Homo sapiens: one gene and its partners. The protein of the gene in region 5 purifies or fractionates together with the protein of the main gene of each other region. This does not show direct contact. Each region holds a gene or a part of one and is shown on either strand. Other genes may lie near its edges. The genes, in order: EDC3, TRAPPC6B, DCTN6, GULP1, CCDC102B, USF2 and UACA.

Evidence for each region.
Region 1: the proteins of CCDC102B (region 5) and EDC3 purify together in Homo sapiens (affinity purification with mass spectrometry; one large-scale study listed by BioGRID and IntAct). This does not show direct contact.
Region 2: the proteins of CCDC102B (region 5) and TRAPPC6B purify together in Homo sapiens (affinity purification with mass spectrometry; one large-scale study listed by BioGRID and IntAct). This does not show direct contact.
Region 3: the proteins of CCDC102B (region 5) and DCTN6 purify together in Homo sapiens (affinity purification with mass spectrometry; one large-scale study listed by BioGRID and IntAct). This does not show direct contact.
Region 4: the proteins of CCDC102B (region 5) and GULP1 purify together in Homo sapiens (affinity purification with mass spectrometry; one large-scale study listed by BioGRID and IntAct). This does not show direct contact.
Region 6: the proteins of CCDC102B (region 5) and USF2 purify together in Homo sapiens (affinity purification with mass spectrometry; one large-scale study listed by BioGRID and IntAct). This does not show direct contact.
Region 7: the proteins of CCDC102B (region 5) and UACA purify together in Homo sapiens (affinity purification with mass spectrometry; one large-scale study listed by BioGRID and IntAct). This does not show direct contact.

The regions. Positions count from the first base shown.
Region 1 is NC_000015.10:74,685,789-74,689,946, reverse strand, and holds part of EDC3 (enhancer of mRNA-decapping protein 3), read left to right. Parts: intron 1-2,767; exon of another isoform or gene 2,768-2,856; intron 2,857-4,158. UniProt on the Homo sapiens protein: Binds single-stranded RNA. Involved in the process of mRNA degradation and in the positive regulation of mRNA decapping. May play a role in spermiogenesis and oogenesis.
Region 2 is NC_000014.9:39,163,424-39,167,581, forward strand, and holds part of TRAPPC6B (trafficking protein particle complex subunit 6B), read right to left. Parts: intron 1-4,158. UniProt on the Homo sapiens protein: Component of a transport protein particle (TRAPP) complex that may function in specific stages of inter-organelle traffic.
Region 3 is NC_000008.11:30,158,856-30,163,013, reverse strand, and holds part of DCTN6 (dynactin subunit 6), read right to left. Parts: intron 1-4,158. UniProt on the Homo sapiens protein: Part of the dynactin complex that activates the molecular motor dynein for ultra-processive transport along microtubules.
Region 4 is NC_000002.12:188,591,868-188,596,025, reverse strand, and holds the end of GULP1 (PTB domain-containing engulfment adapter protein 1), read right to left. Parts: intron 2,087-4,158; coding exon 2,015-2,086; 3' UTR 100-2,014; downstream 1-99. UniProt on the Homo sapiens protein: May function as an adapter protein. Required for efficient phagocytosis of apoptotic cells. Modulates cellular glycosphingolipid and cholesterol transport. May play a role in the internalization and endosomal trafficking of various LRP1 ligands, such as PSAP.
Region 5 is NC_000018.10:68,800,956-68,805,113, forward strand, and holds part of CCDC102B (coiled-coil domain-containing protein 102B), read left to right. Parts: intron 1-4,158. UniProt on the Homo sapiens protein: During interphase, forms fibers at the proximal ends of centrioles to maintain centrosome cohesion. During mitosis, dissociates from the centrosome following phosphorylation to allow centrosome separation. Contributes to CROCC/rootletin filament formation.
Region 6 is NC_000019.10:35,271,772-35,275,929, reverse strand, and holds part of USF2 (upstream stimulatory factor 2), read right to left. Parts: intron 148-4,158; coding exon of another isoform or gene 140-147; exon of another isoform or gene 1-139.
Region 7 is NC_000015.10:70,662,067-70,666,224, reverse strand, and holds part of UACA (uveal autoantigen with coiled-coil domains and ankyrin repeats), read left to right. Parts: intron 1-1,410; coding exon 1,411-1,563; intron 1,564-4,158. UniProt on the Homo sapiens protein: Regulates APAF1 expression and plays an important role in the regulation of stress-induced apoptosis. Promotes apoptosis by regulating three pathways, apoptosome up-regulation, LGALS3/galectin-3 down-regulation and NF-kappa-B inactivation.

The DNA of each region.
Region 1 (4,158 bases), on a different chromosome or scaffold from region 5:
ATGAGATGAAGGATATTCCAAAGTAGCTAGATTTGTAATTGGCAACTTGTTTATTTGTATAAGAACAAAGTGGTAAATGAATTAAAGTATTCTTACCTGGAGGTGTTTAAGAAATGGAGGCAGGGCCGGGCGCAGTGGCTCACGCCTGTAATCCCAGCACTTTGGGAGGCCGAGGCGGGCGGATCATGAGGTCAGGAGATCGAGACCATCCTGGCTAACACGGTGAAACCCCATCTCCACTAAAAATACAAAAAATTAGCCGGGCGCGGTGGCGGGCACCTGTAGTCCCAGCTACTCAGGAGGCTGAGGCGGGAGGATGGTGTGAACCCAGGAGGCGGAGCTTGCAGTGAGCTGAGATAGTGCCACTGCAGTCCGGCCTGGGCGAAAGAGCGAGACTCCGTCTCAAAAAAAGAAAAAAAAAAAAGAAATGGAGGGAGAAGGAAGACAAATAAGACTAAATGAACTTTGGTAGCAAGTTCTTGACTGAATAGTAATTCACAACATCTCTGAATTCAGTAGTCATTACAATTTTAGGAATAATTTATTGGGAGAATAACAGTATCAATGAAGCAAGAGTAAATAAGAAGTATGTTTAAGAAAATACCAAAACCATTGCACCCCACCAGAATGAGTAAGTTGAAGAGAACAATAGTACCAAGTTTTGGCAAGATGAGGAGCAGAAAGAACTCACGTATGGTGGGTTGTATAAATGTAGATGGTAATACAAAATGGTACAACCACTTTGGAAAACTGTTCAGTGGTTCCTAATAAAGTCATAAATATAACATGACTTCCTGTGTTATATGCCCAGTAGAAATGGATGTATTTGTCCATCGCAGAAATATACTGTATACAGTTTAAGAATATTATTTGTAATAAGTCAGAACTAGAAATAACCCAACTATGTATCAGCAGTAGAATGGATAAATACATTGAGGCATGCTTACAGAAAACAGCACAGCTATGAGAAAGAATAAACTTCTGATACATGCAACAATGGGGATGAATCTCACAAATGTACTTTTTTTTTTTTTTTTTTTGAGACAGCATCTCGCTCTGTCACCCATACTGGAGTGCAGTAGCAGGATCTTGGCTCACTGCAACCTCCGCCTCCCCAGTTCAAGCGATTCTTGTGCCTCAGCCTCCTGAGTAGCTGGGATTACAGGCATGTGCCACCACGCCCAGCTAATTTTTTGTATTTTTAGTAGAGACAGGGTTTTGCCATGTTGGCTAGATTGGTATTGAACTCTTGACCTCAAGTGATCCACCCGCCGTGGCCTCCCAAAGTGCTGGGATTACAGGCATGAGCCACCATGCCTGGCCTCACAGATGTACTTTTGAGCAAAAGAAGACAAACACTCTGAAAGAGAACCTTTATGATTCTGTTTATGTGAAGCTCAAAATCAGGCTCAAATAATCTTTCATGATAGATGTCAGAATAATAACTACCTGTAGGAGGACACAATGGAGCCTTTTGAGGTGTTGGAAATAGTCTGTCTTGTTTTGAGTGGTGGTCACATGGGTGAATTGATATGTAAAATTTCAGGGAGGTGTACACTTAAAATATGTAGACTGACTTACTGTATATGTTATACCTTGATAGAAAAGTAGAAAATAAAAGACAAGATTGGTTCCTTGTAGCTCCTGTATCTCCTGTACTTCTTTTGACGTGGAGGTGTTAGCTGTATAATTGATGGAGCCCCTTCCCTAGTCCGATTAGGAACCCAGTTGATGGGCACTGTACTTGTTTTAGATTTACTGTTTTCTGTAAATAGCATAATTTTCTTTATAGAATAAACCTGTTTGAGGAGTTTTGAATAATGCTATTTTACCAAGGGAAGTTTCTGAGGAAAGGGAAGTTTGTTACACATTCAGTGGTTATATTTTTAAAAGTTTCTATTAATATTAACTACATAGAAGAACACTTATAAACGAGTATCCACATTTTCAAAGTGTTAAAAATTCTATTCAGTTACTACTACCATAATATAAACTTGAATGCACAACATCAGTGTCTTAAAGATATATGTTAAATAAAACAGTAAAAGCCTTTTCATATCTGGTTAATTTCTGGTGCTTTTTATTCTGCATCTATCTAAGCATCTGAGTAGAATTATGATGGATTATAAATGATAGGAAAGGAAACTCATGCTTTTGTGACATTAGGCAAAGGTTGATCAGGAAGGGAAAAGAAGCCTAAAATGTGTGTATTTTGTGCTTTTTTACCATCATCATTATTGTTGAAATTGTGTTGCATTGAAAATTTACCCAAGGGCCAGGCACAGTGGCTCATGCCTGTAATCCTAGTGCAGAGGCTGAGGTGAGCAGATCACCAGAAGGCAGGAGTTCGAGATCAGTCTGGCCAACATGGTGAAACCCCATCTCTACTAAAAATACAAAAATTAGCTGGGTGTGGTGGCGGGCGCCTGTAGTCCCAGCTACTCAGGAGGCTGAGGAAGGAGAATTGCCTGATTGAACCTGGGAGGCAGAAGTTGCAGTGAGCCAAGATTGCGCCACTGCACTCTAGCCTGGGCGACAGAGCAAGGCTCTGTTTCATTCTATAATAAATGTAACAAAAAAAAGCCTGTATGAGCCTGCTAATTCATTGTTCTTTTAATCTTCGGTTCTGTCCGCATAGTTTTATGATACTGGCTCAGTTAGATCACTAGAGAACTATCTAGAGTTTGATTAATCCCTAGAGCTGGACTCTTTCAGACTTAGTGTTTCTAATGGGGCATACTGTTTTTTGTTTTTTTTTTTGAGACAGGGTCTTGCTGTGTTGCCCAGCCTGGTCTTGAATTCCTGGACTCAAGTGATGCTCCTGCCTTGGCTTCCCAAACTCCTGGAATTACAACTGTGAGCCACTGCACCCAGCCAGGAGTGCTTTATTTTTATTTATTTTTTATTTTTTTCTAGACGGAGTCTTGCTCTGTTGCCCAGGCTGGAGTGCAGTGGTGCGGTGTCGGCTCACTGCAGGCTCCGCCTCTTGGGTTCAAGCAGTTATCCTGTCAGCCTCCTGAGTAGCTGGGATTACAGGTGCATGCCACCATGCCGTCCACGTCGGCCTCCCAAAGTGCTGGGATTATAGGCGTGAGCCATTGCGGCTGGCCTGGAGGAGTGCTGTATATGCTTTTTTGCCCCTTTCCCTTCATTTATGTATTTATTTTGAGACAAAGTCTTGCTCTTGTTAGCAGGCTGGAGTGCAGTGGCGCAATTTCTGCTCACTGTATCCTCTGCGTCTTGGGTTCAAGTGGTTTTCCCACCTCAGCCTCCTAAATAGCTGGGATTACAGGCACCCACCACCACACCTGGCTAATTTTTGTATTTTTAGTAGAGATGGGGTTTCACCATGTTGGCCAGGCTGGTCTCAAACTCCTCAGGTGATCCACCTGCCTCGGCCTCTGAAAGTGCTGGGATTATAGGAGTGAGCCACCGTGGCTGGCCTATTTAATTTTTTTTGAGATGGAGTCTTGTTCTTGTTGCCCAGGCTGGAGTGCAATGGTGTGATCTCAGCTCACTGCAACCTTCGCCTCCCAATTTCAAGTGACTCCCCTGCCTCAGCCTCCCAAGTAGCTGGGATTACAGGCATGCACCACCATGCCCGGCTAATTTTTTTTTTTTGAGACCGAGTCTTGTTCTCGTTGCCCAGGCTGGAGTGCAATGGCACGATCTCAGCCCACTGCATCCTCCGCCTCCCGGGTTCAAGCGATTCTCCTGCTTCAGCCTCCTGAGTAACTGGGATTACAGGAACATGCCACCGCATTTGGCTAATTTTTGTATTTTTAGTAGAGATGGGGTTTCACCTTGTTGGTCAGGCTGGTCTCGAACTCCTGACCTTGTGATCCACCTGCCTCAGCCTTCCAAAGTGCTGGGATTACAGGCGTGAGCCACTGCGCCCGGCCAATTTTGTATTTTTAGTAGATATGGGGTTTCATCATGTTGGTCAGGCTGGTCTCGAACTCCTGACCTCATGTGATCCACCTGCCTTGGCATCCCAAACTGCTGGAATTATAAACGTGAGCCCCCACACTCAGTCAGGACATACTCTTTTACCAGAGGGGTGCTTTATATGCTTTTTTGCTCCTTTATGTCTGAAATTAGTATTTGAAAACAGTTTCAAGTGCTGGTTTCTTTTTTTAATGTAAAAACACTGAACCA
Region 2 (4,158 bases), on a different chromosome or scaffold from region 5:
CAAATTCTCTAGTCCCACTCCCAATTTACTTAATCAGAAACTCTGGGTATGGGGCCGCTAATCAGCTTTAACAAACCTTCTAAAAATTGATTTTGATACTCAGTCCCACTTCCTTGCTTAATCTGTCTCCACAGAACTTCTTTCACCATTTAATATACCATACATTTTACTATTTTATATTGCCCATGTGCCCCTTGTTCCCCTCTCTGCTAAAATAAAGCTCCAAAAAGGCAGGGATTTTTGTATATTCTGAAGGCTGTTTGTCTCCCACTAAGGAAACCATAGGGCTTATTATTTGCTAAACTTTCTTCTAAGGAACCATGCACTCTGCTTATGGTGCTGTGACTATTAAATCTGCGTTTCTAGTACAGACTTTATTGGGCATAGACATCTAGTGGTCCCACAGGACCTTCGAAGTATGCATATTCAAATGATATTCATTTTATTAATGTCTTCAGCCTGCTCTGCCTCCAAAATTTCCTAACTTCATTAATGGCACCACCATTCACCTAGTTACTCCAACCAGAAAACTTCCATTTTCTTCACCCCTGTGCTCCCAACCCCCCATACACTGTAGTCCGGTGGAGCCTATCTTTTACAAGCTTTTCAAAATTCATCGTCTCTCTCTACCCTTACTTCTTAAGTAAAGCCTTATCATTTCTCTCCTGGTTTTTAGCTATAGCTTTCCAACTGGTCTTGTCTCATTTTTTCCTACTTTGTGTCATCTTCTATATTTCTGGTAGTGTAACTTCTACTAAAGTAAATTTCTAAAAAAAATCATGTTATTCTCGGCCGGGCATGATGGCTCACGCCTCCTAGCATTTTGGGAGGCCGAGGCAGGCGGATTACCTGAGGTCAGGAGTTCGAGACCAGCTTTACCGACACGGAAAAACCCCATCTCTACTAAAAACATAAAACATTAGCTGGGCATGGTGGCGCATGCCTGTAATCCCAGCTACTCGGGAGGCTGAGGCAGGAGAATTGCTTGAACCCAGGAGGCGGAGGTTGCAGTGAGCCAAGGTCACCCCATTGCATTCCAGCCTGGGCAATAACAGTGAAACTCTGTCTAAAAAAAAAATCATGTTATTCTCTACTGGAATTTCAGCACCTGCTCCCCTTTCTTCAAAATAAAGTCCAGGCCTGATGTAGTGACTCATGCCTGTAAATCCCAGTACATTGGGAGGCCAAGGATTGCTTGAGCTTAGGAGTTCGAGGGCAGCCTGGGCAACATAGTGAAACCTCATCTTTAAAAAAATTACAAAAATTAGGTGAACATGGTGGCATGCACCTATAGTCCCAGCTACTTGGGAGGCTGAGGTAGGAGGATGGCTTGAGTGCAGGAGGCAGAGGTTTCAGTGAGCCAATATCTAGCCACTGCACTCTAGACCGGGCAACAGAGTGAGATCCTGTCTCAAAACAAACCAACAAACAAACAAAAAATAAAGTCCAAACTCCTTAGCATGGCATCATGGTATGTCCTTTCCTTAAAGACTCCTGGCTAGTTAACCAAATTCACAAACATCCTTCCCTTTTACCACTCTGAAATTTCTGCAGCAACTCCAGAGTGCCATGTTCTCTTCTGTCTCCCTGCCTTTTTATGTGCTATTCCCTAGACTTCACATTCTTTTTTTTTTTTTTTTGAGACGGAGTCTCGCTCAGTTGCCCAGGCTGGAGTGTAGTGGCGTGATCTCGGCTCACTGCAAGCTCTGCCTCCCAGGTTCACGCCATTCTCCTGCCTCAGCCTCCTGAGTAGCTGGGACTACAGGCGACCGCCACCACGCCCGGCTAATTTTTTGTATTTTTAGTAGAGATGGGGTTTCACCATGTTAGCCAGGACGGTCTCGATCTCCTGACCTTGTGATCCGCCCGCCTCGGCCTCCCAAAGTGCTGGGTTACAAGCGTGAGCCACCGCGCCTGGCATTCACATTCTTTAAATTCTGCTCAAGTATTACATTCTCCCAGATGGCTTCCCTGAAACTTCCTTAGGCCCTATGCTGTCGTAAAATTCTGTACATACATCTATTACTGTACGTATCACTATCTTCAGTTTTTCTGCTATTCTCCACACTTCTCAAACATGCTTAGGATGAGGCCAGGCGCAGTGCTCATGCCTATAATCCCAGCACCGTAGGAGGCTGAGGCAGGAGGGTCACTTGAGACTAGGAGTCTGAGACCAGCCTGAGCAACATAGCAAGACTCTGTTTCTACAAAAAAAAATTTTTTTAATTAGCTGGACATGGTAGCATGCCCATAGCCCTAGCTATTCGAGAGGCTGATGTGGGAGGATCACTTAAGCCCAGGAGGTCAAGGCTGCAGTGAGCCAAAGTCCCAACACTGCATTTCAGCCTGCATGACAGAGCAAGACATTGTCTCTCTCTCTCTCTCTCTGTTTTTTTTTGAGACTGAGTCTTGCTCTGTCACCCAGGTTGGAGTGCAGTGACACAATCTCGGCTCAATGCAACCTCCGCCTCCTGGGTTCAAGTGATTCTTCTGCCTCAGCCTCCCGAGTAGCTGGGACTACATGCGTGCACCACCACACCCAGCTATTTTTTGTATTTTTAGTAGAGACGGAGTTTCACCATGTTGGCCAGGCTGGCCTGGAACTCCTGTCCTTGTGACCTGCCTGCCTTGGCCTCCCAAAGTGCTAGGATTACAGGCCTGAGCCACCGTGTCCAGCCTCTTTTTTTTTTTATTTAAATAGAGACACTGTTTCACTATGTTGCCCAGGTTGGTCTCCAACTCCTGGGCTCAAGTAATTCTCCCACCTCAGCCTTCCAAAGTGCTGGGATTTACAGGTGTGAGCCACCACACTAACCCAGAGACTTGTCTCTTAAAAAAAAAAAAAACAAAAAAACAAGTTCAGCTAGAATAAGTGTCTGTAAATCATGATGCTCTTTTTGGAATAATCTGCTCTCTGTAGAATCACCTAGGAACATATTTATTAGCAGGAACTATTGAAACCACCTTTGCAAAGATTGTAACAGTAAGAAAATCATGACTGTAAAAGAGATCTCACCTAATCAACTCCATCTTGCCTTTAACCTCCAAGCTGCCCTTGGTCATTTCTGGATGCAGCCCAAGCTAACTTTGGGAGAAATTTAGTTTATAGTGTAAGCTTAAAGCAAGAATGATAATAGCCCTTCCCGAAACTAAATCACCTTTGCAAAACTAATGAAAGACTATAAGGTTAGGCTTATGAGAGGGGTCTGAATTCTGCTAAAATGTAGGTAGTTAAATGATAATCAGACATTATTCTGGAAGTCACAGATTTGTAACTTCCCCAATTACTCCTGTAAATAATATCACTATTGTAGAACCTAAAAAAGGCCTTTTGAGATGTCTTTTCAGACTTTTGCATTTCGGATGACTCCAACTGGTCCTCTGGCCCCCACCTCTGTAACTGCATCCCCAACCAACCAGGAGCACCCATTCCCCAGCCCCCAGCCTACCAAACTATCCTTGATAAACCCTAGACTCTGCATGTTTGGGGAGGCTGATTTGAGCAATAATAAAACTCTGCTCTCCCATTTAGCAGCTCTACATAAACTCCTTATTGCAATTCTCCTGTCTTGATAGATCAGCTCTACCTGGGCAGTGGGGAAGAAGAACCCACTGGGCAGTTACAATATGCTTATATGCAGACACTTTCAAATCCTATGATCACATGAGCTTTTGAATTAAGCCCTACTACTTAATTTTGCTACTTGTTCATGCACTTTTGAGTAGGCACCAAATTTTTAAGAAAAATTCAACTTGAGAACATTTTATCCATTAGCCTTTCAAAATCCATTCACCATAAATTGAGAAATGCCCAATTAGTCCATTTTAAGAGAATTCCTCTTTAAGCATAGTTTGAAAAACCTTGATTTGGAGGGTTAGAACACTGTTTCTTTCTTTTATCTCACCTCAAGTCTTATGGAAGTTTATTTTGCTATACTGAAAATTTATAAAACTTTATTTCATTTAAAAAAACTTTCCATAACAAAAACAAAAAAAAAGACACATAATCCTGTCAGCGAGAAATGGATTTTATAGGTCTTTTCAGACATAAACAACATAGTTTTTACAGATCTTTTTATGTCTGAAAAAAATCTCTAAAAATCACCTCTGGATGACAGGATTATGTATCTTTTACATTTTTCATGATGAAAAATTTCA
Region 3 (4,158 bases), on a different chromosome or scaffold from region 5:
CTCATCTCTTAAAAAAAAAAATATGGAATGATCTCCAAGCTATATTGTTAAAAGTAAAAAAGAGTGAAGTGAGAAAATGGACAGTATGTAATATGCCATTATTTTTGTAAAGGTAGGAAGAAAAAATATACATTCAAACTATTTAACAACCAGCAAGGTAATACTAACTTAGAAATTTAAAATTTACAAATGTTTCTGTTTACTCTCATATATATATATACATACACATATATGAGAAACTTTTTACCAAGTAATATAAATTGTAGTACAAATTCTTCAAAAGACTCTAATAATTTCCATATAACTTATTGATGCTTTTTTATATTCTGCTGTTATCTTTTGTTTGACAAAGCTGTATGTAAACACTGACCCTAGCTGAACCATGAGCTGACATGAGGAAGTACATCAAATGACTTCTCCATTACAGTGATAGTTATTAGGAAACTTCTTTTCATTAATAAAAGAATTTTTCTAAATGGCAATGACATTCATGGTGTTAAATCTGCTCTCAGCTACTATGAAATAACACTAACATTTTAGATATTTTGTCTTTGTAATTTTGTTTGGATTTTTCAAAATTTTGATTTCCAATTGTCACAGTATACAGAAATACAATAGTTTTGGGCTGGGCATGGTGGCTCACACCTGTAATCCCAGGACTTTGGGAGGCCAAGGTGGGTGGATCACTTGAGGTCAGGAGTTTGAGACCAACCAGCCTGGCCAACATGGCAAAACCCCGTCTCTACTAAAAATACAAAAATTAGCCGGGCATGGTGGTGGCCTGTAGTCCCAGCTACTGGGGAGGCTGAGGCAGGAGAATGGCATGAACCCAGGAGGCGGAGCTTGCAGTGAGCCGAGGTAGCGCCACTGCACTCCAGCCTGGGTGACTGAGCGAGACTCCATCTCGAAAAGAAAAGAAAAGAAAGGTGTAAATGTTTGTGCAAGAATGCTTATGTAAAAATATTAAGGCTGGGCGTGGTGGCTCACACCTGTAATCCCAGCACTTTGGGAGGCCAAGGCTGGCGGATTGCGAGGTCAGGAGATCGAGACCATCCTGGCTAGCACGGTGAAACCCCGTCTCTACTAAAAATACAAAAAATTAGCCGGGCGTGGTGGTGGGCGCCTGTAGTCCCAGCTACTTGGGAGGCTGAGGCAGGAGAGTGGTGTGAACCCAGGAGGTGGAGCTTGCAGTGAACCAAGACTACGCCACTGCACTCCAGCCTGGGCGACAGAGTGAGACTCTGTCTCAAAAAAAAAAAAAAAAATTAAAACACAATTTTATCTATTCTATCTATTTTTAAATACCATATGCATACATCTAAGCAAAGACTGGTAAGTAACAAAGTAAAAACCTCTTCCCCCCTCCCAGGTTGGACATCACTGAATGAGAAGAAGCACAAAAATCATGAAGAGAAAGGGAGCAGGTAAGGCTGGGAGGAAAAGCAGGATCAGCCCATGAATAAGCTTGTACACCATGACCAGGGATTTGAATTTGCACCTGTAGGCAAGAAGTCACTGAAGGATTCCTATTCCCAAGCCAACAATGTCACCAAATGGTATGCAGATAATTGACACTTGTATGAAGAAGTACTTGGTGGTGGGGGGGGTCAGGGAGGCAGTTGGTCTAATCCTACAGAGATAATGCAGGCCTGAAATGCTGTATTAGTCCATTTTCACACTGCTCTACAGAACTTCCCTGAGAATGGGTAATTTATAAAGGAAAGAGGTTTAATTGACTCACAGTTCCACATGACTGGGGAGGCCTCAGGAAACTTACAATCATGGCGGAAGGTAAAGGGGAAGCAGACACCTTCTTCACAAGGCAGCAGGACAGAGAGACAGTGTGAGCGCAGGAAAAACTACCATTTATAAAACCATCAGGTTTCACAAGAACAGCATGGGGGAACCACTCCCATAATCCAATCACTTGGATTACGGGTCCCTCCCTCAACAGGTGGGCATTATAATTCAAGATGAGATATGATGGGGACACAGGGCCAAACCATATCAAATGCACTGGTAGCACATAGGAGAAGCTGCAGGTATGTCTAGGAAATAGAAACAAGACTTGGCAACAAACACATTTAATAAAAATCTGGTTTCTAGGCAACGTTGAAGGTAGGTATTTCCCATTCCTTGTTACAGGCCCCATGGACCACAAAGTGCATACAGTCGCATCCCTCAGTACCCAGTATCTGTGGGAGATTGGTTCCAGGACCAGTCCTCAGATGTTCAAGTCTCTGATATAAAATGCTGCAGTGTTTGCATAAAACCTATACACATCTTCTCATACTTTGTCATTTCTAGATAATTTACAATACCTAATACAATGTAAATGCTATGTAAATAATTATACTGTATTGTTTACAGACACAATTTTTTTTTCCTATTTTCGATCTGAGGTTGGTTGGATCCATGGATGTGGAACCCATGGATATAAAGAGCAAACTATATTTGCTTTCTTCTCTGTGCAGGGGAAGTAAGTTTGACTAGTGTATTGGTCTGTTCTCACACTGCTAATAGAGACATACCTGAGACTGGGTAATTTATAAAGGAAAGAGGTTTAATTGACTCACAGTTCAGCATGTTTGGGGAGGCCTCAGGAAACCTACAACCATGGCAGAAGGGGAAGCAAACACGTCCTTCTTCACATGGTGGCAGGGAAGAGAATGAGTGCCCAGTGAAGGGGGAAGCCCCTTATAAAACCATTAGATCTCATGAGAACTAATTCACTATCATGAGAACAGGATGGGGGAAACGGCTCCCATGATTCAATTATCTCCACCTGGTCCCTCCCACAACATGTGGGAATTATGGGAACTACATTTCAAAATGAGATTTGGGTGGGGACACAGCCAAACCATATCAACTACAGAAGGATGGGTGTGAGGGGCATGGAGTGAAATAAGGAAACTGGTGCCATCTTGTCCCCTTCCTGGGAAGGGATGATTCCTGATGGAGAGGGAAGCTCAAATTCCAGGGCTCAAAATCAGCTGCTGTGACTCTGCTTCACTTATGCCAGAAAAACAACCAAAACCAGCCTGGGTCACATGGTAAAACCCCATCTCTACAAAAAATACAAAAATTAGCTGGGTATGGTGGCTTACACCTGTACTCCCAGCTACTTGGGGGGCTGAGGCGGGAGGATCGCTTGAGCCCAGGAGGTAGAGGTTGCAGTGAGCTGAGATTGCACCACTGCACTCCAGCCTGGGTGATGGAGTGAAACCCTGTCTCAAAAAAAAAAAAAAAAGAAAACTAATCAAAAGTCTGGAGCTAGGGAGCAAGGTCAAAGCCTCTAGGTTTCTGATCTGGAAAACTAATGGCACCATCTGAGAATAGCCTATGGGAGGAGGGGTAGATTTTAGAGAAAAAAGTCATTTGGCTAAATTTTAGATAAACTCAGTCTGAGGTATCTATGGAATGGTCACCAGATATATCCAATAAGCGACTGAAAATACAGATTCTGAAGCTCATAAGAGAGTTCTAAAAATACAGCTCTGAGAGTCAGAAGGGTAAAGATTCTTTCATTAACATGTCTCTCCATCATTTCTATGCCAGAATCTTCCCCCCAAGTATTCCCTAATATACATGCAAAGTAAGATGAAAACTATTTTTAAGATTGTACCAACTTCCCTACTGGTGTGATGAACTAAAAAAAAAAGAAGACATACACAAATTTTTCTTCCACAAATTAGGGTGGACAAACCTTCACACCGCCATGAATTTTTAAAGCTCTAAGTAAACAAAAAAACATGTATCAAATAGAAAAAACTAATAATCCCTGAGTCTATCTTCAAGAAATGGTTTTGAGAATAGACACAGCTCCAGCTGTTTCCATCATTTTGTTAGGCTCTGACTTTTTATAAGGCGTAAGTCAATGAAATCCTACCAATGGTCCTTCTGGGTGATACAGCCTGTCAAGAGTCAATCTGGGCCAGGTGCAGTGGCTCACGCCTGTAATCCCACCACTTTGGGAGGCCGAGGTGGGCAGATTCCTTGAGGTCAGGAGTTCGAGATCAGCCTGGCCAACATGGTGAAACCCCATCTCTACTAAAAATACAAAAATTAGCCAGGTGTGGTGGTGGGTGCCTGTAGTCCCAGCTACTCTGGAGACTGAGGCAGGATGATCGCTTGAACCCAGGAGGCAAAGGTTGCAGT
Region 4 (4,158 bases), on a different chromosome or scaffold from region 5:
TTATCTCCATTTATGATCAAGAAAATCTGTTACATAATTAGCTTCAGAATGTGTCTGTATTAATTAGAGATTATTTAACAAATGAATTATGCAATTTAATTTATTTAAAATCATTTATTTTCAGGAAAACCAAACATATCGTTGAGTTTACATAGAAATACAATTTTCAACCAGATCTTCATAAAAACGCACTGGAGAAATAAATGTTCATAATTAATGACCAGTTATGTACTATTTCATCATGCCAGTAGCAGAGTTGATTACCATTAAAAATTGGTAAAGTAACATATCTTAAATGTGCAAATACCATCTTAGTACTCCATTGTGTTACCATTGATAATAAATGGCCACTAAATATATACCTATTACATAAATCTTTTTAAAGTACAATAAAAATACAAATTCTATCTGTTAAAAAAAGCCACTTATATGGCTTCTAAACATCCTTATTATACAAATTCCAAAATACTATCTGACAAACAAAATTATAAAGACTCTTCTTTATGAAACATATATTGCCCTCTAATTAAGGTACAACTTAGCAGATAAAAGAAACTAAACAAGAAGGCTCATATATACCATATAACATTAAGGAAAAACACACAAATATATATTGCATAAGCATATTTGATTTCTTTTCCTAGTGAAAATGTACCTTTAACACTTGAAGAAAATTCCAATGAGTAAATGATAAATCTATTTTTGAGGGCTACCCCTACTCTAAGTCACATTTTCATTAATTTAATTTATTTATCTTATAATGTGATGAACCAAGTTAGAAATTTTGACCATAAATTTTTGTTTTACTGAGTACAAATTAGTCTGTTAGGTAAAGGGTAAAGGTATAGGAAACAAATATTTTTAAAAGTCCAGGTTCATCAGCACATCAATAATGAAATGCAAGAGAATTTTATTGCTCATGTTCAAGACTAAACTGAGCAGTAACTGGGTTTTTTTTTTTTTTTTGGAAAATGAGATTTTTGACTTTAACAAAACAAATACAGATTGAATTTACCAAATATTGATAATTCATGTAGAACGGGTGCCACAGATTTTAAAGTATCAAAACCAAGAGGGCATCACAAAATAAACTTTGGTGAAAAATATCTTCATCAAAGAAGAAAATATGAGAAGAGTAGTCCTTATGCAGTGAGGAGAAATATATTTGGTAAAGTAAATATGGGTAGTAGATACTGAATCTATAGATAGCATATATTCCAAATGTTTTTTAGGGAATATCAAATCAGATGATGCTTAGATGTTATAGTAATATCACTTATCTCATTTGGAATGAAATTTAATGTTTTTTAATAAATAGCAAATTTTCATTTTTTCACTACCTTTATAAAACAAATTAAATATTTAGAGTATAACTGATCATAACTAACATCACCTTGCATTTACTAATAAATACTCTAAATACATTTGGTTTATTATTGGAATTTATATCCTTATAATTTTACCTGCTAGAAATTAGTGACCTTGTGGCATTATGTTTAAAGTTTACATTTTCCCAGTGATGTGAACAGTATTTATACATAAAATGATATCTGTCCAATGAATAGTAACATGTTTGTTGGTTTAAAAACAGAACATGTTTAGTTTGACATTGGCATGTCTCTTCAGAATTTAAAAAGTTATCTTTAAGGTATGGCTTTTGGGAAATCATTAATAAACTAGCCATCTGGAAAATGAATACAAATTTCAAGATGCTAACTAAATAGAACTCAGACACAAGGCAGGTATTTGTATAATATGTCTTTCAATTACAAATTCATCTACAGTAGAAACAGAAAGGAACATAAAAGTATGATCTACTTTACAGTAAGCTGTTTTTAAAATAAAAATTACAGATCAATAGTGAAGGTGAGGAAATTTAACTGAGAAAATTTTCAAAATATTAAAATATTCAAAAACATTGACACATGAATAATACCTATCTTAAAGTAATAATAATAAATGACATGTGTATACAAACACATTTAACATGAATCAGGATTTCTTGTTCTTGATGTCAGCACCTACTGTCTAACGGGTCGAGACAAAATACTGTGCCTTCAAGAGTTAGTCCCATTTTGAACCCCTCCTGTAAAACAGAATAAAATAATTAATATCTGAAATGCTTACAGCAAAATAAAATCAGTGAATAAAAAAGACTATGCACTAAAGTTGAAATATTCATGCTTTGATCAACTAATAAATAACTATATGTCAAATGTTGACTTGCTGAATTTTTATATAGGTGTATAGCACTGGTAGTTCTTTCAGACCCATTAACACTTTAATGTTTTAAATCTATGTGAGGTTAGCATGCATGAGAGACAGAAGAGAAAACATAAAATTAAGATAAAGGTTTCTTTTTCAGAAAAGGCTAGTTACTACATCATTCTATTGTAAATGAAATCTGTTAGCTTTAAAAATTATTATTAATTTAAATATTATTAAGATAGTTAGGCTTCAAATTGATGAGAGGTTCAAGATAGCCTGATGATTTTCACCTTATTCCTGGTTAGCACTGACCAGAGCCCGGGTAAAATACTTCTTTTAAATGCAATGCCGTATCCTCTGTGGAACACACAACTGCAGATTACTTTGCCATGGAGAAAACTTCCCCTACTAGCCTTGCTGTTGCTTGTAGCGGACTGGCTTCTTTGACTCCTACTCTTCCTTGCATATTTTAGAAGTTAAGTTGTCTATGATTTATTGAGTATAAGAACACAATTGCTAAGAAAGTGTTTTTCCACCAAGATTTTGAATTAAAATAATGGCATAGGAGTCTGTCCTCCTTCACTCCAATCTCTTTTTTTTTTATTGCATAAGATAATTGAACTGTGGGCCATCTCCAGTCTTGCCACCTCTCCCCATTCCTACCCTTTCCTGTAAATCTATACACATTGGCCTACAAAAAGATGAAAAGCACAGACTTGCACTGATCAATGAAAGTGGAGGTTACATTGTAGGTCTCCTTGTAGAAGCAAATGTGGTAGTGCTCTCTACATACTCTACCTTTTTTTTCTTACTAACAGAACTGAAATGTTTCAGAAAGGTAATTTGTAATTTGGAGTGGCCATGCAACACATTATTGGCAAATAATATGCAGATAGCAGTGTATTCCTAAAGAAAACAAAATGTCTCCTAAAGGTAACCATTGGTTTTCACCTCTGCTTTGGGTGTTTTATTTAATTGGACTGACTATATCTACTTGTATGTTAGCTAATTGGGTATCTTTTTGCATCTCTCCAAATTACTTTTATTTAGAATAATTATGTAAATGTTCTTATCTTTCTATAAATCCAATGTAAACATCATCATATAGAGGAGGAAGGTAGTTACAAAGCTGTAAGCCATACTTTATTTGTTATTAATGTTCAAAGAATATTCTTTATGTTTACAGCACAGAGACTACTACTATATAGCAATTACAGTGATGTAATCATTGTGAAAGTTTTTCAAAATGTCTTTCCAGTACTTGGAATACAATCTTTATTTAGTTGAGTAAATATGAGACTACTTATCATTATTTTTTAAAAATCTATTCTTATCACAAAATACATTTTGCCATATTTATTTATATTTTTCAAACAGCCAGCAAATACTTAGAAAAATAAATACTTTAAACTAAAATACTGTAAGTAAACTTTTCTTTAAAATTATTTTATTTGGATATCTGAAGATCTGTATATTATGTCATCTTCTGGTATATTACAAATGGTAAATAGATGATACATTGATAGATAATGACAGATAGAAAGAGAGTTACATGTGGAAATGTTTGATACCATACGGTACTTTTAAATTTTATCAGTTCATTCTGCTAGTAAACCAGTATCACTTCAATTACCCTGAAAATACTATTTGTCAATGTGTTATCAATATTGGAAAAGCAGAATAGCAGCCAAAGTAAAACAGAGGTCAATCACTATTTTAATAATAAAGTGTTAGTATATGACTTACAATAATATCTATCTCCATATTGACTTTTTAAGGATCCTTACATATTATAAGGTTTCTTGATTTTCTTTCTTCCTCAGATAAAATTTCCCACACCTGTTGAGCTTCAAACTTCTTAATAAAAATGAGACTTTATTTACTTATGTAGTGATGGGAATTATCATAAGCTAACGTCACACAAAAGAATGATTAAATAATTAAAGTATT
Region 5 (4,158 bases):
CTTCTTCTTTTTTTTCAATGAAATAAAAATTATAGCTTATTTCATAACAACGAGGTTTTTTTGTTCAATGTATACATGATGGTAACTATGCTATCATTTTATGAACATACTGCCTACTAGTTTAGAATCATACTATCATTAAGTAGGCTTTACTGAAGGAGTATCTTTTTGCCGTACACGAAAACAGATGAGGATAGTTGAAATGCAAAGATTTGGTCACTGACCTTGAGATTTTATTTTTGTACAGGTTTAGGTTGCATTCTAAGAATATATTCTATAGAAGACATTTTGTATAACTAGTGCTCCATCCTCAGTGCCCTGACTAATTGTAGATGCTCAATGGAGATTGTGAGCTTGAGACCTTGATTGTAAAATGGAAAACTAGATATTGTATTGGAGGTTGTGCTCAAGGCCATTTAATTGTAGTCATAGCTTTGCAAAGGACTGTTAACATTATTATATACTTAAATATTATCCAAGTTGATTTATATTTAATGATATTTCCTAAAAGAATTGCTGTTGTGTGTCATAAATATATTAAAATATTTGATGTTAAAATTTTGATAGAAGGATTTTTTTAGTAGCTAAAGAAAAAGGTGTCCTTAATATTGAGAAAAAAAACATATGCTCACTGAAGAATTTATAAATATATCTTATCATAGTGTCTGTTTCAAATTTGTAGAATTAAAGTTTCCAAAAATAAAAGTGAGATTTTTAGTCACTGACTCGGGAGCATATGTTTCTAAGCTGCAGTAAACGTTTGGAAATATAACACAGGTAAAGAGGCAATAGTTGCATGAAGAAAAACCTGTAGCAACTTTAGACTCATTTTCATTTGGAAATAGTTTTGAGAGTCTTTCATACAATCTTTCCTTTCCTCCCTTAGTGAATTTAGGATTGTGAAGGCATTAGGTGAAAGATTACATTTATGACCTCTGCAAAAGATCAAATAGTCTTATTAGTCAGCCTATATTCATGAATTTTCTATCTTCTTTTGACATGAAGGGTTTTGAACAAGCGTTTCTTCTCTGGATGAGAAGAAAATGTATTTCACAATAAAACATGAAAATTATAAGGTGCTCAGTGGGATTATAACATTTGGTAGCACAGGAAAAAAGAGAAAGATGTGGAAGTGCCATAATCCATTGGTGTTTCATATAATTCTAGAAGGTTCTGGTTATAACCTGTTCCTAATTTGGAGCTAGAATAATCTCAGGGATTGTCTGAGGGTTCAGGTGAGCTTTGTTCTATCTTTGTTTGGAAATCACTTTACAGGTATTGTCAATGGTAGGAATGAGTTGGGTCAAAGCAACTACGTAGAGTCCCTGCCATCCTATTTTTGATACTGCCCAGGCTTCTTCATTCTTTTTGTAATAATGAAACTTAAGTTATAGAATTTATGATTGCATGGATTAAAAACATGGATGTTGCAATTATGTCGTGCTACAAGTGCCCTCTAAAGGTGTTAATGCTATATGAATTTACTTGCTGGCTTTTATGTTTTTGATATGTTTTTATATTTTATGTTTTTGGTATCAGGACTAAATAAATTTGACCTGATAATGTAGATTAATGGGAGAAATTCCAGTATTCATGGATTAGAACTAGGAGGGCTATCTCAGATACAGGCTTCTCACAGAAGGCTGGGGCCTAAGCATAGGTACTGAATGCAAAGCTCTGGTCCTGGACCTCACATGGTCCATTCATTGTCTATGGTTGGCCGTCATTGTTTCCTCTGTGGCTATAAGTTTCTTCCATATTATTGAGCAGGATGTTTATCTGAATTAATATAAATGACATATTCGAGAAGCATAGATCTTTATCCAAAACGATATCAGAAGTAGAAATAGTGCAGAAGACAAACTCCACCTCCCATCTGCTGATTCTTTTGAAACCCCTTGGTCCTCTTATCTCTGAAAGGGATACATGGCTTTGTTCTCCCAAATATCCTATCCACTTTCCACGCTGTTTCAAAAGTATTTCTGGCCAAATAAATGTAAATCTTCATCTTTTGTATATACAGATAATCATCATAGGTGTATTTGTGAATTATTTAAGTACTTGGAAGAATGAAGTTGCTGATAGCAATTAAAGTGGTGTGATTGGGGTTAACCTCACTTAAAACTGTTTCTTTATTAATTTTAAAAGCCTATAAGCGTTTAATATCTAAAAGCCACCTTCTTTAGAGAAGACTGACTTATTTAGTGGAACTTGTAATGCTTGCCTTTTGGAAGAAAAGGAATAGTTCTAAGTCACTCTGTTTTAGATTTGTCCATTTAGTAATAAATGTCTACCATGTCTCAGACACTGTTCTAGCAATGGAAATAGAGATGTGAATAAAAAGTAAAACCCCTTTCTTTACATTAAGCATATAGTCTAGCTGGTAAAGCAGTAGAATCCATACATAGTATATAAATATATATTAAGTCATGATAAGTACTGGAAGAAAAAAAGAACATTCAGGCTAAAAGGGAATAGAATATTTACACACTCTTGAAATAACCAGGGAATGTCCCTTCTGTTAGGGTGAAGGATGTAAGATACTTAACCACGAGGAATCTTGGCAGAAGAGAAGTATAAAGGAAATCACATGTGCTAAAGTCTTAAGTCAGAAGAATGTCCCTTCAAGGAATGGCCAGATGGCCGGCAGCTGCTGGGAATGAGCGAGGCAGGGAGGCACAGGCAGAAGCTACTTTAAGAGGAAGTAAATCCAGCTTAAGCTTCAAGATATTAGGGTGGTGCAAAAGTAATTGCATTTTTTGCCATTACTTTCAATGGGAAAAATCACAATTACATGGTCACCAACCTAATATTATTTTACTTTTAAAAGGGCTCTTCATACCCCAACTGTAGGAGCCTCAGGTCGGGAAATCATGGGTCCTGATGAAGAGTTCAGGGATGGTTTATGTTTAGATCATGACAACATCATAAACTACAACCACTTTATTCTGAGTTTGATGGGAAGTCATTTGAATGTTGGGATCCTAGAAATATTGTAACATAAGTTGAGTGTTCAAAGCATCCACTCGGCTGTGCTGTGGAGAACATACTGGAGTAGGGAAAAGGTAGAAGTGGGGAGGCCAGATACCATACAGTATTCCAGGCAAGAGACAGGGTGGTTTGAAGGAGATATTAGAGATGGAGTTTTTGTAATTCTGCATAGGCTGTATTTCATATTTTCCTGCCAGAACTGATGGAGTTTCCAACAATGATGTGCAATGAAGAGACAAAGGAATCAAGGGTAACCCCTAAGTTTGGTCTGTAAACCTAGAAGAGTGAAATGTGCATTTATTGACACAGGGAACACTGTGGAGGAGCAGGTGTAGATGTGAGGGGAGTTCAAGTGTTTGTTTTTGAACATGTGAAATCTGAGATGCTGATTAGATATCCTTAGTGATGTTAAGTGGGCAGCTGGACACGTGAGATCCCAGAGATAAAGGAACATCTCAGGCCAGAGATATGTCTGTTAGGAAATTTCAGAAAATTAATGAATTTGAAGTCAAAGGCCTGGATGCCTTCACCCAGAGCAATTACCCCAGCCTGAAGTCTCAGTGTTGGAGCGCTTGCAGTCAGAGGTGTGAAGCTGAGACAGAATGTGGGGCAGCTACCAGGGAGTAGGAGGAGAACCATGAGAGAGGATGCCCTCAGAAGCCAAGAAAGGGAATGATGAAATGGACAATCACATACAGGGCTTCTGGTTGGCCAAGTAAAACAGGAATTTCAGGCCTGGAATTGACCATTAGATTTGCAATGTAGAAGTCACTGATTTCCTGTTTTTGTGGCAAACTAGAGTTGAAAATGATACTGCGACTTCAAGAGAAAATGAGATAAATGAAAGTGTCTTTAAAATAATTTTTATTTTAGAAAATGCCAAAGATATGGAATGGCTGCTGGGTTGGGATCAAAATCTTTTTTTTTTTTTTTATGTTGAGGGTATTATAGCATGTGCATTTGCTAATGGGAATAATCTAATCTAGAGAGAGGTACAAACTAGTTAAACAGGAGAGGAGTATATTTGAGGAGGCCATGTCCTGGAGCGGATTAGAGGAAATTAGATAGAGCATACAAATGGGAAGTTTGGTGTTAAGAACGTGGAGTAATTCTCTATAAAAACAGACAGAATAACATATGGGTATCCATTAGACACATAGATATGAT
Region 6 (4,158 bases), on a different chromosome or scaffold from region 5:
GAACACTCAACCAGCCTGACCTCACTGACCTGGGGGGACATTCTGCCTGACAGCAGCAGACACCTGTCCTCGTCAATGCCCCAGAAGCTTCCGCCAAGCTAGGACACATTCGGGCCCGTCGGGTAAGTCTCATCGAATTTCAAGGAACTGAAATCATACAGAGTATGTTCTCTGACCATAACAGAACTAAATTAAAAATCAATAACAAAAAGATATCTGAAAAACCCACAAATATTTGGAAATTAAGCAACCTGCCTCCAAATAACAGAAAGGTCAAAGAAGAAATCACAAGGAAAATTGGAAAACACTTTAAACTGAATGATAACAAAAACAACATATCCCAGTGGGATGTAGCTAAAGTGATGCTGGAGTGAACTGGCAACTCTAAATGTTGTTAAGCAAAGAGAAAGGTTAAGAATCATCTCAATCCCTGCTGTGAAACATTAATCCTGTAAAATAAAGATTTTAGTAGAAAATTGGAAAAAAAAAAAAAAAAAGAATTACCTTAAAAAGCTGGGGTTGGGGTGTGCCAGGGAAGCTAAAGCATGAAACCTAGCAAATTGAATCCAAAGTGAGTAGAAGGGGCCGGGTGCAGTGGCTCACTCCTGTAATCCCAGCACTTTGGGAGGCTGAGGCAGGTGGATAACCTGAGGCCAGGAGTTCGAGACCAGCCTGGCCAACATGGTGAAACCCCGTCTCTACCAAAAATACAAAAACTAGCTAGGTGTGGCAGCGGGCACCTGTAGTCCCAGCTACTTGGGAGACTGAGGCAGGAGAATCACTTGAACCGGGGAGGCAGAGGTTGTAGTAAGCTGAGATTGCGCCACTGTGACAGAGCGAGATTCCATCTCAAAACAAAACAACAAACAAACAAAAAACCAAGTGAGTAGAAGCATGAATTAGTAACATTAAGAGTAGAAATCAATGAAACGGAAAAAGCAATCTAATCTGGCACCTAAAAATCAGATTTCACATAAGTCTCGATTTCTAGCTTCTCAGAGTTTCTGGCAACAGTGGCCCTAGATTCTGACAGGGCAGCAAGGGGAAGGCACTGGGCAAGGGCCACCCTTCAGGCAGCGCACACATGCCCCAGATCACTGGGGGCCCCCCACAACCTTTCCTATCTTTTTCTGACACAAGGTCTGGGTCTGTTGCTCAGGCTGGAGGGTAATCTCAGCTCACTGCAACCTCTGTCTCCCGGACTCAAGCCATCTTCCCACCACAGGTTCCCAAGTAGCTGGGACTGTTACAGGCATGTACCACCAGGCCTGGCTAATTTTTAATTTTTTTGGTAGAGACAGGGTTTTGTCACATTGCCTAGGATGGTCTCAAACTCCTGGGCTCAAGTGATCCGTCCGTCTTGGCCAAAATGTAATCCCAAAAGTGCTGGGATTCCGGGCGGGAGCCACCACACCCAGCCACACACCCCTTCCTGAGATGCCAAGTGCACCTCCCTCCCTCAGGCCCCTGCAGGCATTTGAGTCTGTGACTCTGGGATAAGCTCCTGCAGTACCAAGAAGTGGTGGGAAGGAGGGAAAAAGAAGTGAGAGAAGCGGATCTGAAATCACCACAGAAGAGAAACTTGGGGTTTGTGGCCATAAGGGAAGAAGAGGGCAGAGTTGAAAGCGGCTCTGGTCTTAGTTTCTGGCTTGGGCAGCTGTGACAGGGGTAGCTTTTGCTGCTCTGCAAAGAAGAAGGTTGCATGAAAGCCTTTGGAGACGGGAGATGGCACATTCTCTTTTGGGCGAGTTGAGTTTGAGGCATTACAGGGATGTCCAGAGACAGAAATCTCGAATAGGTAGTTCAAAACGTGGGGCTGGAGTTGCAGTGAAAGGAAGGGAATGGATGGAAACACAGTTCCTTGCATTACCAGGAGCCAGGTGGTGGGCGAAGCCTGGGAGGACATCAAGGAACAGTCCTCAACTTTTTGTGAGTCACACACTCTTCTGCAGCAAAGAAAAAAGAGGAACACCTACAAGGGGGAACAGAGTTTGGGGGATACTGACCAAGAGCTTCCGAGCCCATCGCTGGGCCTCACAAGTCATACACCTGAGGCCGACGGGAGGGGCCGGACCTTATGAAACACCAGCAAGACTGGGTGTGGCAGCTCAGGCCTGTAGCCGAGGCCGGAGGACTGCCTGAGGCCAGAAGTTCAAGACGAGCCTGGGCAGCATAGCAAGACCTCCACTCTACAGATAAAAAAAAATTACCCCATGTGATGACGCCTGCCTGTGGTCCCAGCCACTCAGAAGCCTGAGGTGTGAGGATCGCTTGAGCCTGGGAGGTCAAGGCTGCAGTGAGCTGTGATTGTGCCACTGTACTCCAGCCTGGGTGACAGAGTGAGACCCCCTTCTCAAAAAAAAAGAAACACTCGCAGCCAAAGCAGTTTCTCAAGCTTGTCCACTATGACAAATCACCTGAAGAGCTGATGGAAAACACAGATTCCCCGGCACCCCCATCTACTCACTTGGAACTGGGACAGCCCTGGAAATTTCACTGTTAACAGTGGGGTAGGAAAGGCAAAGATCACAGGAGAATCAGAGAGGATGGAGGAGAAAGGAAGATTCCAGAAAGGAACAGAGGGAAACAGGCAGCATCAGATGCTTGGAGCCCAGACAGCAAAGGAGGCCAGTGGATGTGGCAATGGGGTCACCACGGGTGACCGGAAGTGGAGCTGTTTTGGTAGAGCCATGAGCCAGATGGCTGAGGGTACTGGGAGGATGAGCAGATTGGGGCAGATGCTCTGCAAGTCAGGAAAGCGGAGACAGGACGGAGCTGGAGAAGTGGGCAGGTGATGAAGACTGCTTCACAGGGTGAGAAAGTTTCAAGGCTGCCTGGAGTCAGATTAACTAAGGGAGAGGCGGGGGTGAGAGTGGGGTGGGAGGGTTCTGAGTCCTCTCTTCGCCTTACTGTGTGGCCACCAAGACTCACTGCATCCCCACCAGGTGCCCGGGGCGGCTGTGCTTCCACCATTTCACAGAGGGAAGACAGGTACGGAGATTAAGAACCACCCTGACGCCCCACCACAGGTAAGTCGTGGGGCTGGGGCTGCTCTGGGGGCCCCTCAAACTCACTGCATCTCAAAACCAAGCTCAGATGCACCCCTTCCCTTCCAAGCATGGAGGGGAGTTCAGCACGAAACCCTTATTCTCCAGCCTTGGAGTCCTCCCCACATTTCCCCCAACCCCTGCCCTGTCTCAGGCCTGACAGTCGTATGGTCTCCTACCTCCCAGCCCCTTCCCACCACTCTTGCCAACAGCCTCCACAACCCAAACCCCTCTGCTGGCTTCTCATCACCCTGGAATAAAACCACAGGAGCCCAGACAGCCACACTGGGGACTTCTTCCAAGGTCCTCCACCATCTGGCCTGGGCAGCCCCCTCCACTGCGCCAACTTCCTCTTTCCTTTCCTGAATTCTGCTCTTCTGCAGACACACCATGGCGGCCCTGGCTCAGGGCCTGGCCTGTGTTCTAGCTCTTCCCTCTGCCCGGGACTCTCCTGAGGTTCTCAACAGGCCCCTTCCCTCAGGTCGCTTCAGGGATCTGCTTCAATGTCACCTCTCGAAGAGCCCTTCAGAGCACACTACCATGCCGCCATCACCCGCCACCTTCTTCCCCAGCTTTCCTCTCCTGCCTGTGACTGCCTGCACTGCCTGATGCGGCTGTGTGACTCCCATCTCTCCCACCAGAACGCGCACAGAGAGCTGAGACCTTGTCTGTCCTATCATCTGCTGCATTGCCATATCTGAGGACGCAAAAGGGGGGCTGGTCGTAGTATGCACGCGCTGAATGAACGCCTGAACTCAGGGAGGAGCTGCTCAGAACACAACTACCTGGGCCACAGACCCCAGTCCCATCACCACCTTTAGGACTCAGCATTCAGCCCCTCACTCGGGCATTCGAGGCCTTCCCGATCTTCCCTCCTGAGGCATTCTAAATGGAACTTCTCCCACAACCAAACCAGCACCCCACAAAGTAACCTGACCCACACTCCCCTCTCCCTAGGGAAGCGTCACCCCAGCCCACCCCCCATCAATGTCCCATGAGACCCATGAGACATAAGCCCTCAGGCCTTTGAGCCTCCCTGACGCTCCAGGCCAGACTCCAGACCTGGCACAGGGCCTGTGCCGCTCAGCCCAGAACCCACGGGCAGTAAATA
Region 7 (4,158 bases), on a different chromosome or scaffold from region 5:
TACTGAGTTGAATCCTATACATTCATTAACATGTTATCCTCCTTCTTAAAGCCCTCACTGTCCAATCTAGTCTATAGTAAACAGTTCCTCCTCTAAGGTGGATGTTTTACTGTGGCTTTGCCATCCATTTAAAACATTTATATTACCTTGTTAGAATTATGTAGTTGATCTTCCCAATCAGTTTTTATGAGCAGGGTTTATAACTTAACTTTCCATCTTAGCTTTAATTCTCATGGTACAATTTACAGAATAGGTACTCAACAATATTTTTGACACTGATGTTGCATAAAGTTTTTACTATGGATATGACATATAAAGATTGGCTGCAGTTTTATCCATTCAACATGTAATGATTAAATGCCTTCTGCATGTCATGTGCTGGGGATACAGTGGAGTAAACACAGACACAGACTGCCCTCCCCAGTGGAAAGTACTTGTACATACTGTCCTCTGGCACACCATCTCTGTGATTGAGAATTTAAATGCTCTAAGCTTGTTCAGAAGGTACCTATGAATATATATAGTAATATATAAGAGTTAATTATTAATATCTACTTGTTGCCATTTATTGAGCGGGTGCATGTAATTGCATTTCATTTTCTTTGTTTTTTTTCTATTATTATTTTTCAATAAAAAATTTTGTGGGGGAGGAGATGGTATCTTGCTCTATTGCCCAGGCTGGTCTTGAATTCCTGAGTTTAAACAATCTTCCTGCCTTAGCCTCCCAAAGTGTTGGGACTATAGGTGTGAGCCACTGTGCCCAACCTGATTTTCTTAACTCTGAAAGATTGTCCACCTTTCACCAATGTGGAATCTAAGGCTCAGAAAAGTAAATTAGCCAAGCTCATACAAGTTGACTCTGTCTGACTTTAAAGCAGGGTGGAAAAATGCTATGTTTCTAGGCACTTCCTATTCCTATAAACAAGCCTCCTTGTTTTTTTTCTCTCTACAACAAAGTGGTCTTAAATAATACAACTCTTGAAAGGAAAAAGGAACATATGTTAATCCTAGACTTACACGGGCCACACCCTTTTACTTTTCACACTTTGTTGCTGGGAATCCCCCTTCCCTTCCTGTGTTCCATATGTTACCTGGAAGATAGTTCATGTGCCTTCGTAGATGCTTATATATTAGCTAAAAGTAAGACTATGTTTATACTCACATCTTAGGATATATGTAATATTTATTCTTAATTTGGTATTGCTTTTGTAAATAATTTCTGGAGAGGGATTTAATTATAAATTACATATTGTATACATCCTTGGTAACAGTCTTGGCAATATTCATACCTCAATTTTCTGGTGTATAAAGATAAAGCTTCTGTCTCCAAAAAGGAATGATTTCTGTACAAAGATGTTCATTGTACATGATAAGTGAATAATATATTTCTCCTACAACATTTTTTTAAAGATAACTGAACTGCTTAATGATGTGGAAAGATTAAAACAGGCACTCAATGGCCTTTCCCAACTCACCTACACAAGTGGGAACCCCACCAAGAGGCAGAGCCAGCTGATTGACACTCTGCAGCACCAAGTGAAATCTCTGGAGCAACAGCTGGCCGTGAGTAACCAGGCACACGGGGCTTTGCAGGAATATGTGCTGGCTCCCTGTAGTTAGTTTGTAAGGCTCATTTAGAAATTAAAGTGCTCTGTAGCTATGTTCGGATCCAAGAATATAATTATTTTTATATGCGAAAAGTTACCTATACTGGTGGTGTAATAATACTTATTTGATGCCTACTATACACCAGGCACCATATTAAACATTTTACGTACTTTATCTATAAACTTTATCTTCATCATGATCTCACAAAGCAGATTTATTCCCTCCATTTAATTCTTAAGGAAACAAAGAATAACATATTTGATGCCTGGGGTCATTCAGCTGGGGTATAAACCTGGAACTGGCTGACTCCAAATCCAGCATCTTTCTCATTGCAGGGTGCTCTCTAAAATATTGGTCCACTAAACTAAAGGAGGTTTTAAAATAATCTTTTATCTTTGTGAATAAAGAGGCATTCCTATGGTTTTATACCTTATATAGAAGGATAAGTGCCTGGATTTAGAAGCTAATGTTGGAAGGTCTGGTCTAAGTCCTGCCACTTACAAGGAAGTGGCAAGGAACATTCCCTTTAACTCTTGGTTTTCTCATCAAGAAAATAGAATAATAACTGATTACTTGTTTACATTTATTATTATTTTTATTATACTTTAAGTTCTAGGGTACATGTGCACAACGTGCAGGTTTGTTACATATGTATACATGGACCATGTTGGTGTGCTGCACCCATTAACTCGTCATTTAACATTAGATATATCACCTAATGCTATCCCTCCCCCCTCCCCCCACCCCACAACAGGCCCCAGTGTGTGATGTTCCCCTTCCTGTGTCCATGTGTTCTCACTGTTCAGTTCCCACCTATGAGTGAGAACATGCAGTGTTTGGTTTTTTGTCGTTGCGATAGTTTGCTGAGAATGATGGTTTCCAGCTTCATCCATGTCCCTACAAAGGACATGAACTCATCCTTTTTTATCACTGCATAGTATTCCATGGTGTATATGTGCCACATTTTCTTAATCCAGTCTATCATTGTTGGACATTTGGGTTGGTTCCAAGTCCTTGCTATTGTGAACAGTGCCGCAATAAACATATGTGTCTTTATAGCAGCATGTGTCTTTATAGCAGCATGATCTATAATCCTTTGGGTATATACCCAGTAATGGGATGGCTGGGTCAAATGGTATTTCTACTTTGAGATCCCTGAGGAATCGCCACACTGACTTCCACAATAGTTGAACTAGTTTACAGTCCCACCAACAGTGTAAAAGTGTTCCTATTTCTCCACATCCTCTCCAGCACCTGTTGTTTCCTGACTTTTTAATGATTGCCATTCTAACTGGTGTGAGATGGTATCTCACTGTGGTTTTGATTTGCATTTCTCTGACGGCCAGTGATGATGAGCATTTTTTCATGTGTCTTTTGGCTGCATAAATGTCTTCTTTTGAGAAGTGTCTGTTCATATCCTTCGCCCACTTGTTGATGGGGTTGTTTTTTTCTTGTAAATGTGTTTGAGTTCATTGTAGATTCTGGATATTAGCCCTTTGTCAGATGAGTGGATTGCAAAAATGTTCTCCCATTCTGTAGGTTGCCTGTTCACTCTGATGGTAGTTTCTTTTGCTGTGCAGAAGCTCTTTAGTTTAATTAGATCCCATTTGTCAATTTTGGCTTTTGTTGCCATTGCTTTTGGTGTTTTAGACATGAAGTCCTTGCCCATGCCTATGTCCTGAATGGTATTGCCTAGGTTTTCTTCTAGGGTTTTTATGGTTTTAGGTATAACATTTAAGTCTTTAATCCATCTTGAATTAATTTTTGTATAAGGTGTAAGGAAGGGATCCAGTTTCAGCTTTCTGCGTATGGCTAGCCAGTTTTCCCAGCACCATTTATTAAATAGGGAATGGTTTCCCCATTTCTTGTTTTTGTCAGGTTTGTCAAAGATCAGATAGTTGTAGATATGTGGCATTATTTCTGAGGGCTCTGTTCTGTTCCATTGGTCTGTATCTCTGTTTTGGTACCAGTAGCATGCTGTTTTGGTTACTGTAGCCTTGTAGTATAGTTTGAAGTTAGGTAGCATGATGCCTCCAGCTTTGTTCTTTTGACTTAGGATTGACTTGGCGATGCAGGCTCTTTTTTGGTTCCATATGAACTTTAAAGTAGTTTTTTCCAATTCTGTGAAGAAAGTCATTGGTAGCTTGATGGGGATGGCATTGAATCTATAAATTACCTTGGGCAGTATAGCCATTTTCATGACATTGATTCTTCCTACCCATGAGCATGGAATGTTCTCCCATTTGTTTGTATCCTCTTTTATTTCATTGAGCAGTGGTTTGTAGTTTGCCATGAAGAGGTCCTTCACATCTCTTGTAAGTTGGATTCCTAGGTATTTTATTCTCTTTGAAGCAATCGTGAATGGGAGTTCACTCATGATTTGGCTCTCTGTTTGTCTGTTATTGGTGTATAAGAATGCTTGTGATTTTTGCACATTGATTTTGTACCCTGAGACTTTGCTCAAGTTGCTTATCAGCTTAAGAAGATTTTGGGCTGAGATGATGGGGTTTTCTAGATATACAATGATGTCATCTGCAAACAGGGACAATT